Linked DNA regions of Homo sapiens: region 1 is linked to region 2. Evidence: fine-mapped expression QTL. Tissue or cell type: whole blood. Region 2 holds a variant in brackets; the other region holds the start of a gene. All regions are shown on one strand. Distances are between the middles of the regions.

Region 1 (8,104 bases), 56 kb after region 2:
CACTCGGTGTCCCACTGCTTGGCCTCGTCCTGGATCCCCAGCACACAGGGGCTGCCACTCTTATGGCACTCAGCCACACTTCCACCTTATATGCCGGGTCTGTTTTAAGACTTCCGCTGTAATGTGTTTATTTCTGTGGGAAATGTGCACTACAGGTTCCAAACAGCATTTTAAATGGCAATTCAGTCCTCAGGCCAACCCACAAAAGCCTATTAAATATATAATCGTCCCAGAGAAGTACAGAACCTAAATAAGTGTACCTTAAAAGCTCTACAGGAGATGCCAGGAACAAACATCTGCCTCCTGCACCTCCACCCACTGTCCTCCAGGGTCTGAGCTTCAAGCGACCATCAGGGGCAGAGGCAGAGAAGCAGGCGGGAGATGGATGAGTGGGAAGAACCCGATTTACATTCAGCAGATCTGGCTCTTCTCCCAGCTCTGCCTTCACTAACTGGGTGGCCTTGAGTGAGTCCCTTCCCTCCCTAAGCCTCGCTATTCTCCTATAAAAGGAGAAGGCTGAGTTAGATCAGTTCTGAATCTCACAGATCAGCAGAATATATATATTTTTAAATATAAAATGGATTTTATATTATTAAAAATAAATTTTATCAAGAAAGGGCTTTTAAAAAGAAATCACAATATACTACAACCAGCCTCATTTTTCAAAGGGATGCTGTAACCCCCTCCCCCTCAAAATATCGTCATGTCAGAAAAATTGACAACTTTTTAAACTGAAAACATTTGCATTCATGAAAAACAAACAAACAAAAAAATACACCATTTTTTTTTTCCAGTTTGACTGCAGACCAGAAAACTCTATCCCAGCCCAGCTTCAGTCCTTGGCCCAATGCTTGAGAACCACTGAGCTAGGAGACCTAGAGTTCACTCCAGCTCGACGTTTCTCCATCCTACAGGCTGGATGGAGCCAACAGGACAATCAGCATGGACGGCCCTAGAGAAGAGTCAGCTGCAGGGATGAGCTGAGCTGGACAGCAGGAAAGCAGGCAGTCAGCGCAGGGATGGGAGCAGGGCAGCATGGCTCGGCAGGGATCGCCCTGTGCCCTAGGGCTACCTCCTGCCCCTGTGTCCAGGAGCACTTGGCAGGGAGGGCACCGCCACCCATAGCCTCTGAGGGCACAGACACCCAGCCTGGAAGCTCTTGGAACTAACCTGTCCCACGTGTTTGACAGTGACACCTTCCTCCCCAGTATTCTTTTGGAAGGCTAAGGGTTCCCAAAGCAACATTTTAAAAAATCTTTATTAACTTTTCTGATTATAAACTAATACATATTCATGTGAAAAACTTGGAATCCACAGAAAAGCATAAGCAAAGAAGCAGAAGTCATCACAACTCCACCTTCCAGAACAATGACTGTTAACATTTTGATGCACTAATTCTTCATACATGTAACTTCAGCCACCCTCAGATTTGGTTTTACATCCTGCTTTTCCCTTACTTATCACACTTGGGCATTTTTCCACATCCTTAGATATTCTTCATAAACATCATAAAATGTTTTCATAATAAACATAATATTCTGGTAAATAAAAATATTCTTTATAAACATTGCAATGGACTGAATATTTCTTCTTCTTCTTCTTCTTTTTTTTTTTTTTTGAGATGGAGTCTTGCTCCATCCCCCAGGCTGGAGTGCAGTGGCGCGATCTCAGCCCACTGCACCCTCTGCCTCCTGGGTTCAAGCGATTCTCCTGCCTCAGCCTTCTGAGTAGCTGGGACTACAGGCGCCCGCTACCATGCTTGGCTAATTTTTGTATTTTTAGTAGAGACGGGGTTTCACCATGTTGGCCAGGCTGGTCTCGAACTCCTGACCTCAGGTGATCCACCCGCCTCAGCCTCCCAAACTGCTGGGATTACAGGTGTGAGCAACTGTGCCCGGCCAGGACTGAGTATTTCTGTCATTCCCCTGAAAATTCATATGTTAAAATCCTAACCCCCAAAGTGGTGGTGTTAGGAGGTGGGGCCCTTGGTACGTAATTAGGTCATGAGGGTGGATCGCTCATGAATAGGATTAGTGCCCTTGAAAAAGGGACCCAAGAGAACTGTCTAGTCTTCTTTCTATCATATGAGAATACAGTGAGAAGTCAAGAGTCTTCTGGAGGAGGGTCCTCACTAGAATTCAACCATGCTGGCACCCTGATTTCGGACTTTTGGTCTGCAGAACTGTGAAAAATACATTTCAATTGTTCTACACCACCAGTCTATGGGATATTTCTTATAGCAGGCCAAACTGAAAAAGATAAATATCACTTTCCATGATATGGACAAGGCCAGATATTATTTAACCATGCCACTATTATTGAGCATTTAACCCATTTCCACATTTTGCTATTGTAAAAAATGTGGTGGGTGTATATCCCTGTACACGAATCCCTGCAGATGCCTTTATACCCTTCAGGTCACAGCCCAGTCCTGTGCACATATCAGCCCTCAGTAAATATTGAGTGAACAAAGAAACCCAACCGGCTTCCAGGAACCTGGGGAGCACTTATCAGATAGATACAGCATTTAAATTTACAAAGACCCAACGCGCTGTCCAGCAATCACTCACCACTGCTCCTGTTGGCATGCTCCCTCCACCTCCTACCCGCTAAGCCAACTCTAGGGCTTAGGGAAAGGAGAAGATAGAAATTGCTTGCTCAGGACTCCCAGGTTCTAGTGCTTTCAGCAAACCTACCTGCTCTTCCGCACCTCCTGGTGAAGGGGACCTGCAGCCCTCCACTGCCTAGCTAACTACCACACATCTTTCAGACTCTGTTCAACCCTACCACCTCAGGAAAGCCATGGCTGACCTCCCTTTAAATCAACGTATGGCTCCGGTTCAGTGAAGGATACTAGTACTTAAGGTCACAGCACTTGCAGTTCTGTCATTATTTGCTCACAGGACTGACTCCTTTGCCCAATCCAGGGCAACACCAGACGGCAGGTACAATGTGTGTTTTGCTCTCCGCCCAAAATCTAACCCAGTGGAGGGCAAAATATCAATCCAAACAATGTGATTGACAAATAAATGTCTGCCGAATGAAATTTCAGATTCTCAAGCCGTTTGTTTTCACAAAAGGGAGGGGAAAGGGAGGAAAGCAGGACCTCCTACTCAGCCCAAGTGCAAAGACCGATGGGGGGCGTTTCAGGAGATAGCTCCCTCCTCCTGGCCCAGAGACCCGCCCAGACCAACTGGCTCCAGGGAACTGATGGCAAACCAGCATTCAACAAACCCAGACGCAATTAAGTGACACTGCCCCACTCCAGCCTGGTTCTCCCCAAGAGGGAGAACACAGACCGAAGAGAACAGGGGGCTTCTTTCCCCACCCACTTCCAACCAGAGAGTACCAGGCCACTCCTCACTGGTGATCCAAAAGGCCAGGGTATTGGGAGATGGAAGTGTTTCAAGCAACTCAACCCACACTTTTCTCCTCCCATTTGCCCAGTGTCCTTGCCACACCCAAATGGAAAAGAACGGGAAAATCTGGGTTGGGGGGAGGGTGCCAGGAACAGGAAGTTCCCTGGAACTTCAGGGGAAAAGGACCAGGATGGTCCTAAAATAAGGGAGCGCATAAGTTATGGAAAAGATGGGGAAGGAGGCCACAATATCTCATCACACACCCACAGCGAAACGAAGGCCAAACCCCAGACCTGGGCCGGCAGGCACACCCATTCCGACCTCTCTCAGGGATGCCTGGAGTCCCCCCCACCAAGTGTAGCAAACTACTCTTGGAGTCCACTCCTTTTCCACTTTTGTAAGATTTTGCAGTTTACACAGCTTCCTCCACTGAGACCTCATCCGACTCTCAGAACCACCCTATGGGGGTAGCTTTGCCTTTCTATATCATGCATGAGGAAACTAGCTCAGATACATTAAATGAACCGCCGCGTCACACAGCTAGAAAGTGGCTGAGGCTCGAGCCCGCCTCAGTTGGGTGTAGGAGCAGCTCCTCCGCCGGGGCGGGCTACGTCGACCCCACCCAGCCCACCGAGCCTGGCCTGTGGGCGGAGGCCCAGGTGGTGGCCCGCAGTTTCCCAGACGCCTGGGGCCGAAGCCAAGAACAAGGTGGCCCTAAACCAAGGTTTCCGGCAGTGCAGGTAGTAAGCACCCCCATCCCACCCCGCACTCACACAGGTGCAGGGCTCGGAGTCTGGAGCGGAGCTCACCCCGCAGCCCGCCGGCGTCCTGCCCGACCGGCTGTGCCCCGACCTGCATCCCCGCAAAGTTGTGGCCGTGGCGTAAGCACCCTGCCAGGGATCTCCCGGCGCCCCACAGCTGCCTCCTGCCCCTGCGTCCGGGAGCGCTTGGCGGCGAGGGCACCGGGACGCCCGCTGTCTCCCGCGTAGCACCCAGTGCCCGCCTGCCTGGCATGCACGCCCTCATCCCGGTGCCCCGGGGCAGCTCCCCGCACGTTCCGCAGAGGGCTGGAGCAGAGAGCGCAGAAGGGCACGCGGGACACACGTGCTGGCCCGGCCCGGATCCCTGCCCCACAGTCTCACCCAGATTGCCAGCAGCAGCCACGCCGGCCCGGCCCGCGCCATCCCAGCAGCGCTGCCCACCGCTGGCTCCTTTCTCCACTCCGGCGCCCGCTCCCGCCCGCCCGCCTGCTAGCTCCACCGCGGCCAACCACCACGGCCACTTCCCAGCCGCTCCCCGCCTCCGAGTTCCCGGTGCCACGTCTGCCAAAGCATGCGCAGCAGCTGGGGAGAGGCGGCCGGGAAGAAGTGCTCGCTGGGAGTTGTAGTCTGCAGCCTGGCTCAGCTGGGGGCTGCGGGTGCGGACTGGGCTCCGAGGCCACGTGGCAGCGAGTGAAGTGCGAAAAGGCAAGGTCAGGGAGTAAGGGAAGGCAATTAATGAGCGGGGGCTTACTCTGTGCCTGGAGCTTCAGAAACAGTATCTCACGCAGCTCACAGAAATTAGGTTTTATTTTCTCCACTTTGAGGATTAGGAGGCAGCGCAGGGAATTTAAGTACGTTGATCCAGATCACACAGCCGGTAAATGGCAGAGTCCAGGGCTGCCTGTGAAGGACAGGAAAAGCCCTCATCCCTGCCTCCCAGACTCCCTCCTGCTTATTCTATTTAACTTCAGTAAAACATTATTGAGCTGTTGGAAAACAATCTGGTGGTTCCTCAAAAAGTTAAACATAGATTACTATATGACCAGCAATTCCACCCTTAGGCTAATACCCAAAAGAATTGAAAACAGGTATTCAGACAAATGCACGTACACCAGTGTTCACAGCAACACTATTTACAATAACCAAAAGGTAGAAACAACTCTAACGTCTGTCAAAGGATGAATGGGTAAACAAAGTGTGATACATCCATCTAATGGAATGTTATTTAGCCATTAAAAGGAATAAAGTGGCCCAGCAGGGCAGCTCATGACTGTAATCCCAACACTTTGGAAAGCTGAGGCAGCAGAATCGTGTAAGACTAGGAGTTTGAAACCAGCCTGGGCAACATAGCAAGACCTCATCTCTGCTAAAAATAAAAATAAAATAAAATAAAATAGCTGGTGTGGTGGCAAGGGACTGTAGTTCCAACTACTTGGGAGGCTAAGGCGGGAGGATTGCTTGAACCTGGGATATGGAGACTGCAGTGAGCCAAGATCATGCCACTGCACCCCAGCCTAGGCCACAGGGTGAGACCCTGTCTCAAAAAAAAAAAAAAAAAAAAAGGTGGGGGGGAGAGAATAAAATGCTAATACATTCTACAATGAATGAATCTCAGAAATGTATGCTAATGAAAGAAGCCAGACACAAAAAGTCACATATGATGTGATTACATCTTATGAAATATTTAGAATAGGTAAATCCACAGAGACAGAAAGCATAGTAGTGGGGGTGGGGAGGAAGGAATGGGGAATGACTGCTTAATGAGTATAGGGACTCCTTTGGGAGTGATAAAACATTTTGGAACTAGATGGAGATGATGGTTCCACAACATTGTGAAGGTACTAAATGCCACTAAACTGTACACTTTAAAATGGTTAATTGATGTTATGTGAATTTTACCTGAGTAAAAATTTTCAAAAGAAAAAAACTCTTTATTGAACCCATTCCCTGTGCTAAAGCAGGGGTCCCCAAACGCTGGGCCTCTGGACAGTCTGTGGCCTGTTAGGAACCAGGAGGCAAGCTGTGGGCCAGCGAGCATTACCACCTGAGCTCTGCCTCCTGTCAGATCAGTGGTGGCATTAGATTCTCATAGGAGTGTGAACTCTATTGTGAACTGCACATTCAAGAAATCTAGGTTGTGGGTGCCTTATGAGAATCTAATGCCTGATGATCCGAGATAGAACAGTTTCATCCCAAAACCATCCCCTGTCCCCCCACCATCTGTGGAAAACTTGTCTTCCACAAAACCGGTCCCTGGTGACAAAAAGGTTGGGCCCTGCTGTGCTAAAGCATTCTTGCATGCAGTCAGTTCATACATTCAAGAATGTTTATTGAACACTTACTATGTCCTGAGGCTCAAGATATCCAGTAGTGAGATGAACAAGAGAACAGCACAGTCAGAGGTTGGTAAGTTATAGCTGAAAGGTCCTTGCCTTCTGTCAGGAGAGTCAAAGCTCAAAACTTAGAAGTTATCCATTACTCGCTTCCTATTCACAACAGGCCCATCCAACCCCTCACCACATCCTGTCAATTTTACCTCCAGAATATATCTCTCCTGCCACCTCCCAAGTCTAAGTGACTATCACCTAGGGAAGGGTAACAGTTTCTGAAAGAGTGTGCCTGCTTCTCCCCCATGCCATCCATATGTTAATGTCAGTTGGATCTTGCTTGCCCCTCCCCTGAAACCCTCCAGTGGTTTCCCATTACCCTTAGAATAAAATCCAAACTCTTCCCAAGACCTGCAAGCCCTGCATGGTCTAGGCCCTCGCCCGCCCGGTAGACCTCATCTCCTGCCTCCCACAACCCCTGTCCACTGGGTCCAGTTACACAGACCATCATTTCCTCACCCCTCCCCTCTCCAGAGCTGCTCCTGCCTCAGGGCTTGTGCTCCTCCCATTCTCTTTGCCTTGGCAATTTCCTTGGCCTTTGTCTGGCTGGCGCCTTTGTATCCTTCAGGGTTCTCCTATCTATCCCCTCTCAGAGATGCCCTTCAGAGCAGCCCATCTACAGGTGAGTTTACCCTCCCCACTGCCAAGCTCCTTTTTCTCTATCTCAACTTCTGCTTAGGTTCTGTTGCTTCTTTGCCCAGCACCTACCAAAACCCACAAGACTTACTGAGTCCTTGTGTTCATTGTCTCTTGCTCCAACCTGAATGTCAGTTTCCTGTCCCTCTGTTCATCACCTTGCTTCCAGGACCTAGCACAGGACGGAGCCACAGATGGTTCTCACTGTTCTTTTTGATGAATGACTGAATGATTGAGCTAAGTAATGTGTTGGGAAGTGTCAGAAATTCCTAAAGCAGTTTGGGGACAGGGCTTCCTTGGCATGCTCTGCTCTGCAACCTCGAACTTATGACCTGCACATGGGAAAGTGAGATTTGCACCCCTCTCTGTGGGTCTCTGTTTCTCATCTGTCAAATGAAGCAGTTGGTGAGGATGCAGAGCTACTGGAACACTCACGCATTGCTGTGGGAGTGTAAATTGGCTCACCTACTTTGGACAACTGTACATGTACAAAATCTGAGCCAAAATGTTCATGGCAGCTTTATTCACAGAAGCTGTTATGGACTTGTGTCCCCCCCAAATTCATATGTTGAAGTCCTAACTAACCCTTACTACATCAGAATATGACCGTACTTAGAGCCTTTGAAGAGGTAATTAAGGTTAAATGAGGTCATTGTGGTGGACCCTAATCCCATATGGCTGGTATCCTTACAAAAAGAGGACAGTAGGACACATATACAGAGGAAAGACCATGTGAGGACACAGAGAGAAGACAGAATGGCCAGTGACACGCCAAGGAGAGAGGCCCTCAGAAGAAATCAACCCTGCCAAAAGCTTGATCGTGGATTTCTAGCTTTCAGAATAATAATAATAATAAAAAACAACCTCTGTCATTTAAGCCACCCAGCCTATGGTGGTCTGTTACGGCAGCCCTAACAAACTGATACAGTAGCCCAAACTGGAAACAACCCAACTGTCAGAA
Region 2 (8,104 bases):
CATTCAAGCATGAATGGGGAACCTCAGAATGAGTCCAATGGGAGTGAGGAAATGCAAACATTGAAAGGAGAATTGCTGGTGCAGATTTGATGACTTGTATGTTCCCTTCTGATCTGCCTTCATGCGACTGATTTCATGAGCTCTGCAGTTTGGAGAGAGCAATTGTTCCAGGCTCTCTAGGACTGGGAGGGTCACACAATCAGAACCTCATCTAAGGGAGATGCATGTGCCATAGATGAGAAGATGCAACTCTAAGCATTACGAGTCCAGAAAACTTGGTGTTTGCTAATTCAGTTCACTTCTGGTTGGCATAAAGCTACACAGGCCAAAATGACCCTGCCCAAAATGGATCACTGCTTATGTACCCCTCCACCTGTCTGCTAGCCCAACTCACCAGTGACAGCTTCAAGTGGCCAATGAGATACGTGGCCATTAGGAACACAAAAGACACCAGTGCCACGATCAACACATCTACTCCAGAGCCCTCATACACTCAGATGCCAGGGGCTGACTCCCTGCCCTGCCTCACCTGGTGCCACCCTTCCCTGGTCCAACCACCAGAGTCACGCATTGAAGGGCAGGACCTAGGTCTTCTCTCCTAGGCATTTGAGAGCCATTTGGAGAATTAGCTAGGCTGGCTTCACCCTCATCTTTGTATACTTGGCTGCACAGAAGCCCTGAGCAGCTAAGAGCCAATGGAGAAACCTAGAGAAGCAGGAAAGATGAGGTCACTACTGCCCAAAAGGATGTGAGGGGAAACTGGAAAAGGCTTAATCCATGTGGGACCGGGAAAACCCACATGCAGAGCTAGATCTATGTAGGGGAAATAATAACAATATGCTATCTTTGGGTAATAGGGTGGGGGAGGACTTTTTGTTTAACCACACTTTTAGGTTTTTCTATAATAAGCCTATCTTAGTTGAGTATCTCTGAAATCAGAAAAGACTTTAAAAAATTAAGCCAGCTGGTAGCAGAATGACATTACTAGCTCTTGCAGAGGATAAGGCCGTTAACAAGAGCTCCTTCTCTCCCACAGCGGGGGATGGGGGGAAGTAGGAAGTGGGGATGGGGTACCCAGGACCAGAGACTGGAGGCAGCTGTGGGGTGCAGGCCAGCCGGAGCAATGCGGGTGGGGGAGCCGGGATGGGGTGTGCCGAGAGGAGAGGGGTGGGAGGATGGAGTAGGAGGCTCCAGCGGGGAGATAATAGCCTGTTTCAGAAACACCATTGATGTGCTCCCTTTGTCTAGGGTTAGCAGGTAATTCTGAATACTTAAAAAAAACCACATAAACCTTATCCTTCCAAAAAAGATATGAGGGTGTTTTGAAATCAGAAAAGGTTAGAGAAGGGAAGGGAAGCAGACAGATTTTATGCTCTAGTGACAAATGAGATTGCTATTTGTTGAGACCTTCTCCCAAAGCAGAATGAGATGTGTCTGGATAGAGGAGAGGACACGCTTATTATCAAATGAAAAAGGAAAACAGGAAAGCAAAGGCCCAGGTTAAGACAATGAACACATGATAATGGGCAGCAGCCTTCCCAGGCAGGGGCTGGAAATGAGGTAGCCGATGGGGACAGAGATGTGAGAATGCTTCCAAGAAATAAAAGACATGATGCAAACATGTGCTAGCACTTGTGCCTTATCTCCCGAGAGTAGGCAGAACAGAAGATGGAGACTCTCCACCTTTAGAAATCTAACAGTTAGTTTCATGTGCATTTTTTTCCTGGTACAAAACCCACCCTTCTTTCCCATTTTGAAAATACACATTTTCAACCTCCATATCTTGGATAACTAATTCTTTAACCCTGGGGTTTGCACACTGTGTTCCTAAGGTAATGATGTCAATAAATGTCCACTGTGCCGGCAGCTGAGGGGAGGGGCTCCGAGCAGAACTTGAGGAGGCTAAGTTGGACTGTCGGGGCTGCAGGGAGCTGGGTTGGTGGCGGGGACCCATCAGGGCCCTGCTACTGCTTACCGGCACCACCCCTTTACTGTGCCTCAGGGACCTCATTCATAAAATGAAGAGAACGGTAACATCTTCCTTACAGTGCTGTTGTGAGGATTAAATGAGAATCCATGTAAAGTGCTTAGAACAATGTCAGCCACAAAGGAGAGCCCAAAAGATGTTGGCTGTTGTTACTCCAGCACATATGCACAAATACTCATGAAGCAGCAGTGGCTGGTAAGTGCCAAACTCGTGACACACAGAGCGCAGCCTGAGTAGGGTGCGTGCTCAGCGAGGGTGGCCTGGGGAGGCTTCCAGAAGGGGACATCGTGAGCCTGTCGTGGAAGTGCTGGTGAGAAGTGGGAATGGGGTGATCTGGCAGGACAAAGCAGCAGGCCTAGCACAGTGGAGGCTCCAGGTAAGGAGGCAGGAGCCAACAGGGTGGTGGGGTTTGGCATTACAAGGATCTAATCATGTTATAAAACAGGGATCACAGGTTGCAATGAAGCAATGCCTGTGGGGGTTGAACAGTAAAGCACTCAGCAAACCTAAGGCATTAGAATATTTCTTAGTACCTTCACAGCACCTAAGACAGTGCTGTGTTTGAAATAAGTGTTCAACTGACAATTCTATTTTCAGAGAGACCTGCAGTGGAACCTCTCTCAAACCTGGTAGCCTGGGTGAGAAATACCTCTATCCATCAGATAGATGTGTTGAGGAGAAACTTGATGTGAAATGTGGGAAGAATTCAGAAAGGCCCTGACTATTCCAGAAGAGCTGACAGGCTTAGGCAGCCCCTCCCCAGTTCCAACCCGTGGAGACGGGAGGTAGGGGAGACAGACTCCACACCCAACACCCAGGCAGGTCTGATCATCACAGGCCAAAGTCACACCAAATCCTCATGGCTCCTGCAACCTAAATTCCCACAATCCCCACAGTGGCCTAGACTCAAGCCAGAGACAGCTGTGTAGGCAGTACCACAATTCCCTTCCTCATTCTTTCCCCCAACCTCCAGCCAGAGCCCTGCGACCCTCAGGCCCGGCAGATGCCCCGCCCTCTGGGTCCACGCCCACTGACACACACACACCCCACTTACTTCTTCAGCCACTCCACAATGTCCTCAGCTGTGGACCCATAGTTGTCATACTGGAACAAGAACCGTCCTTTCCTGTGAAACGTGGAGAAACAACGTGGGCTCAGTCACGGATGCAAATGCCACCCTGAGATTATGGTCAATCACCAGGGAGGGAGGTGAGCTTTAGAAGGAAAGTGGGGGACGTACTCAAAATAGCAGATGGTGGGGAAGCCGCGCACGCTGTACTCCTCCTTGATGTTTTCAAATTCAGAGGAGTAGACATTCATCCCGGCCAGCACCTGGGAGGAAGCGGAGAAGAGCCGTGTGGAGCCTGTGCCCCACAGACACCCTCTAGTCCACACGCCATCTGTCCAGCTGCTGTCCCACCAGAAAGACATATGGGACAAAGCCCCACAGACTGATGTGCATCAGGGCTGCTGAGAAACAAGGCCAGCGAAGCCAGCCGGGAATCATGACCTGGCGCTGGAGAAGTCAGGCAGCTGGGCCGAGTGCTGCACTCCGCACGCCTGCTCCCTCTGCCTCCCTGCAGGAAGAACCACCCCAGAGCAAAACCAACGTTCTGAGGGTTGCAGAAGAAGCCGGGCCTTGCCATCAAGTTCACATTACTCTCAGAGAGGGGCCACTGCCAAGGATGTGTTACGCCTATTTCTCTGTTCATGTCAACTCGGGTTGTACTCTTTCCTAGGCTATGGAAATAAGTGGCTTTCATACACCAATTCAGCTCTGTACAACGTCCTTAGACACCTTCCTGGATACCTCACGGTTTGCTCACCTAGGCTTGAGTGTGACGTTTCCAAACCTCACAGCTTATATGTGGCCAGGGAGGCCGTGTGGTTCTCATAACACAACATGAGAAACGAGGCACCTGCCTAACTCTCCTCCTTCCAGGCCGTGCTGTGTCTCCCCAGTGTTTCCTCCTGTTGGTGACCATTAC[C/T]CACAGCCTGGCTGGATCATCATCTCAGAATTCTGAACATATTCTGGCTCCAGGGGTCCACATGTCCACTATCCCTGAATCAGAAAGAGTATTTTAGTAGCTGGGTAACCGACGATGTAGCTAAATACTAAGACTGACTCATATAAGGAATCCCCTAAAACTCCCTCTGCAGTGGCATGATCATAGCTCACTGCACCCTCTAACTCCTGGGCTCAAGCAATCCTCCGCTGTCAGCCTCCTGATTAGCTGGGACCACAGACATGTGGCAGTATGTCCGGCTAGTATATTTTTCTTTTTGGTAGAGATGAGGTCTTGCTGTGTTGCCCAGGCTGGCTTCCAACTCCTGGGCTCAAGCGATCCTCCCACTTCAACCTCCCAAAGCACTGGAATTACAGGCATGAGCCAGCATGCCCAGCCAGGACTTTGAATCTGTTCTTACCAGAGAACACAGCTAGAATGGCCCGACACACAAAGGTTGTTCCACAAAGCAGAGTGGCATAGAAGCGAGGGAAAAGTAAGTAAAAAAAGCCAGCAGTAGTTACAGAAGCAGAGAGAAGAAACCCAGGAAGCTGAACTTTACTGAATAATACATAAGGACACAGAGAGAGAGGAAAATAAATAACCGTTTCAGTGGACAATAAATTGATTGCAAAGACAGCTTCCACTTATGAGTCATGTGACCTTGGGCAAGTCACTCACCCTCACTGAGGTCCCTTGCTGGAAGATGTGACCATCAAAGGGCTCTTTAGAGAACTAAATGAGATGAGAGGTTTTAGCACAAAACTGGAGCTCAGTAACTGTCATCTTCCTACCAAGTCTTCCTGGTGATGGGAGCCACTGTGCCTCTGGCCTCTCCATTCCTAGGGGCACCTGGATATCTTTCCAATTGTTTTAAGTCCCTAGCACAAGGCCTCACATACAGCAAGGACACAATAAATGCTCACTAAATTCACTGTTTTTTTTTTCCTAGCCCATTTTAGGATGCAGCAAATAATACAGGAAGAATAAATTTGAATTCGAATTTACTTGAAGCCCTGGAACGCTCTATAAAAGTCATTCTGCTCATTTCCCAGACTGCTCCAGCGGCCTGTTCCAGTAATATTTGTCTTCTTTAAAAGTCCTTTTTTTTTCTGCCTAATTGATCTCCCCAGTGTCAGTGCACATTCACCACAGATTAATCTTACACGTCCTCCTCGCTCATTACATCACTTCCCTGCACAAAACCTTCCAATTCCATTGAATATAGGCTAAAATCCAGCTCCACATTCAATGCCCATATGTTACCTATTTCATTTTTGAATCTTTCTTTCTTACAAAACTCTTCATTGTACACCTGTTAGGGTCTAGATTTTTTATTCTCCCAGGAATAAGACAGTCTGAGATTTCTGCACAGGAAGGAAGTTGGACTGTCTGCCTTCTCAGACATCTTGCTGAGTGCAGCAGCAACATGCAGTGGCTGGAAGCATGGACTCAGGATGCCTGGGTTTGAGTCCCAACTCCCCATGGGGTCGCGCATTTCCTTGAATGAGTCACAGTTGTCTCTGCGTCTCACTTTCCTCATCTGCAGCCACCTCATGTGGTTGTTGAGAAGATTCAATGAAATAATACAAGATAATCAATAACACAAAATGTATTAGCTATTTTTGTTACTAGGACTAGGAGGTGCTCTATTTCTGCCCACACTTCTGGAACACTCGCTGTTCTCTCCTGGCCCCCACTTGGTGCCTTCCAGTCCCCTTACTGAGGCTGCCCATCCCCCGCCTCCTGGCGACCCTCCAGACTCACCCATCCCTTAAGGCAAATCAAACCTCACGTCTCTGGGCAGCCTTTGCAAACCACCTTCGCTTGGGGTGAGCTCTTAATTCTCCAAGTTTCTGTAGCACTTTTGTGCCATTTTGGGGGCATCTATTAGTTAATGAGGCAAAAATTTTTGAAAAACTACATACAAACACTTTCTGGAGTTAGAATTTGTGAAGTCAAATGAGGTGACACACCTGGTCTCGGCCTGTGGAGAAGATAAGAACACAGCCTCCCTGCTCCCCACTGCCATCTGCATGCTTGGGGCCACTCAGCTGGCGTGACATGCTCTTCTGTGTGTTCAGCCCTGCTGCCAGGAACCATCACGGCAGCTTCTTAGCGTGGGCTGCATGTGAGCTTGCACTCAGAGGAGAGTAAGATTTCAACAGACGTCCCGGGATGGGGAACTGGAGGCAAGGCAAAGAAAGATGTGGCCCAAGAAATGGAGCACATTTCCATCTAACTGGAAGGCAGGATACACAGAAAGGAGAAGACATGAAAGAAAAGGCTGAGTGAGTTGGCCAGGATCACTTTGGGAAAGGCTTGAAATACCTAAGAAATCGGGACTGTATTCAGGAAGTGACGGAGAGCTCCCGAGGGTTTCTAAGTAAGAAAGCAACCCTCAAACCAGTTGTATCTCTCGAAGCAGAAAGGACGAGCTATGAGGGAATGCTGTGGTCAGGAGACAAGTCAGCAGCCTTTGGCCACCAGCTAGCATAGCCCACTGGACAGGGCTGGTGGGCAGGGAGAGGATGAAGGGTGCATGAGGAAGATGCCTGATGATGCCTCAGTAAAGAGAGGTGGAGGTGGGGGGTGGGGAAAGAGCCTGGCCCCTGGGGAAAGGACTTAATGCAAAGTTCACAGTCTGCCAGATGGAAAGATACTGAATTTTCAGACATGCATTTGAGACACAAGGGAAAAAATCCAGATGGAGCTGTGAAGCAAGCCATCTGACACGTGGCACTGGCACTTAGGGGAAGGACTTGGGCTCCATGGAGCTACGTTTTGTTGAAGCTATGGACAGAGATGTGGTCACTGGAAGGTAGACTGTAATAAGACAAAACCTTGCTCCAATGTGTTAACAGGAAAGCGGAACCTTGGGAGCACCCCCATCTAGCCGGTGGAAGGAATGTGGTGCAGGGCAGCTGTAGGGAAGAGAGGGGATCAGTCATCTGTGTCTATGAGTGCTCTGTGGGGTACAGGGCTTCTTCCACACAGCCCATTTGTTCCTCACCACAACCCAGTGTGGGCAGGGTTGGCATTATCATCTCCATTTTACAGATGGAGAAATGGAGGCTCCAAGGCTAAGGAGCTTGGACCAAGATCTCCCAGCTGGTTAGCAAGAGCCAGCACTAGAGCCTGGTCTGTACAAATCTGTCGTCATGATGGTTCTATTTCATGGTGTTTATACCCAGACTGGCCCATCATGGCCGAGGTCCACCAAAGACTAGGCAAAGCTCAAAGGCTCAGTGCAGATGTCAATAACTGGCAAGGCTGGGAAGAGGCAGATGGAGACAGGGCTCATTCTGATGGCTGCTCTGAGATGGGGGCAGCGTGGCTGCTAATGAGGATGTCAATTAGCAGGAGTAGATGGGACAGACGCGATGAGTCACCAGACGTCAATGACAGCACAAAAGAGGCAGCTGTAAGTTTGGAAATGGCAAAGGCTGTGCATCCCTGACCTGGCATGCCTTCCTTCCTAATGATGTCAATCAGGTTGAACACCTCCCAAAAAATCTGTAGAGGAGGAAGATTTTTGACCCTTGCCAGAGACAGACCCAGCCAAAAAGGCTCAAAGATGACAGAGATGAAGAAGTGACAGAAGGCCCTAATCCAGCTGTGTTTCAGCAGCGAGGAGGGGGTGAACTTTGATTTCTGGGGAATAGCAGCCCATTTATTAGTCCCACCTCTTTTCTGTGTGTGAAGACAAAAAGCAATTGACACCTGTGGTCACTCAACCCCTCCAGCCAGGTCCCCAGTTTCTGGGGAGCTGCCCCTGCAGAGTAAGCCCTAGCCTCTAGGGGCCTCCTGCGTGGGTGATGCGTGCAGCGGCCAGGGCCCTTCCCTCTTTATGTAGCTGGGAAAGGGCTAGAACTTTCCAGAAGATGCTTTTCTAGGAAATGAAAGGGAAAATAGAACAAAACAAACCCCAAGCAAGAAAATATACAAACAAAGAAATGAGTTTACACAACCCAGATGTCTTAGGCCAAGGCAGCCAACACCTGGTCACAGCTTGACTTGCCCAGCTTTGCAGACAACGCCCCTGACTTTTCTGTAATGTTGAGGGAACTGGAATGGGTAACTTTTATATTTCTAGACCTGGGCCCAGGCA

Evidence for each region. PIP is the estimated chance that this variant, and not a neighbour inherited with it, causes the effect.
Region 1: PDIA5 starts here. The variant in region 2 is fine-mapped to the expression of PDIA5 in whole blood (INTERVAL, PIP above 0.99).

What each region holds. Positions count from the first base shown.
Region 1 is chr3:123,063,604-123,071,707 of GRCh38, reverse strand. PDIA5 (protein disulfide isomerase family A member 5) reads right to left here and starts at 4,683. Exons shown (of 17, transcript NM_006810.4): 1 at 4,502-4,683. The coding sequence starts at 4,543. RefSeq lists a silencer at 4,389-4,628.
Region 2 is chr3:123,119,281-123,127,384 of GRCh38, reverse strand. It overlaps PDIA5 (protein disulfide isomerase family A member 5), which reads right to left. Exons shown (of 17, transcript NM_006810.4): 9 at 3,228-3,319; 10 at 3,042-3,113. Among named protein-coding and RNA genes, the nearest start is that of MIR7110, 38 kb to the left of the region's middle. The variant C/T (reference allele first, on the strand shown) is at 3,976.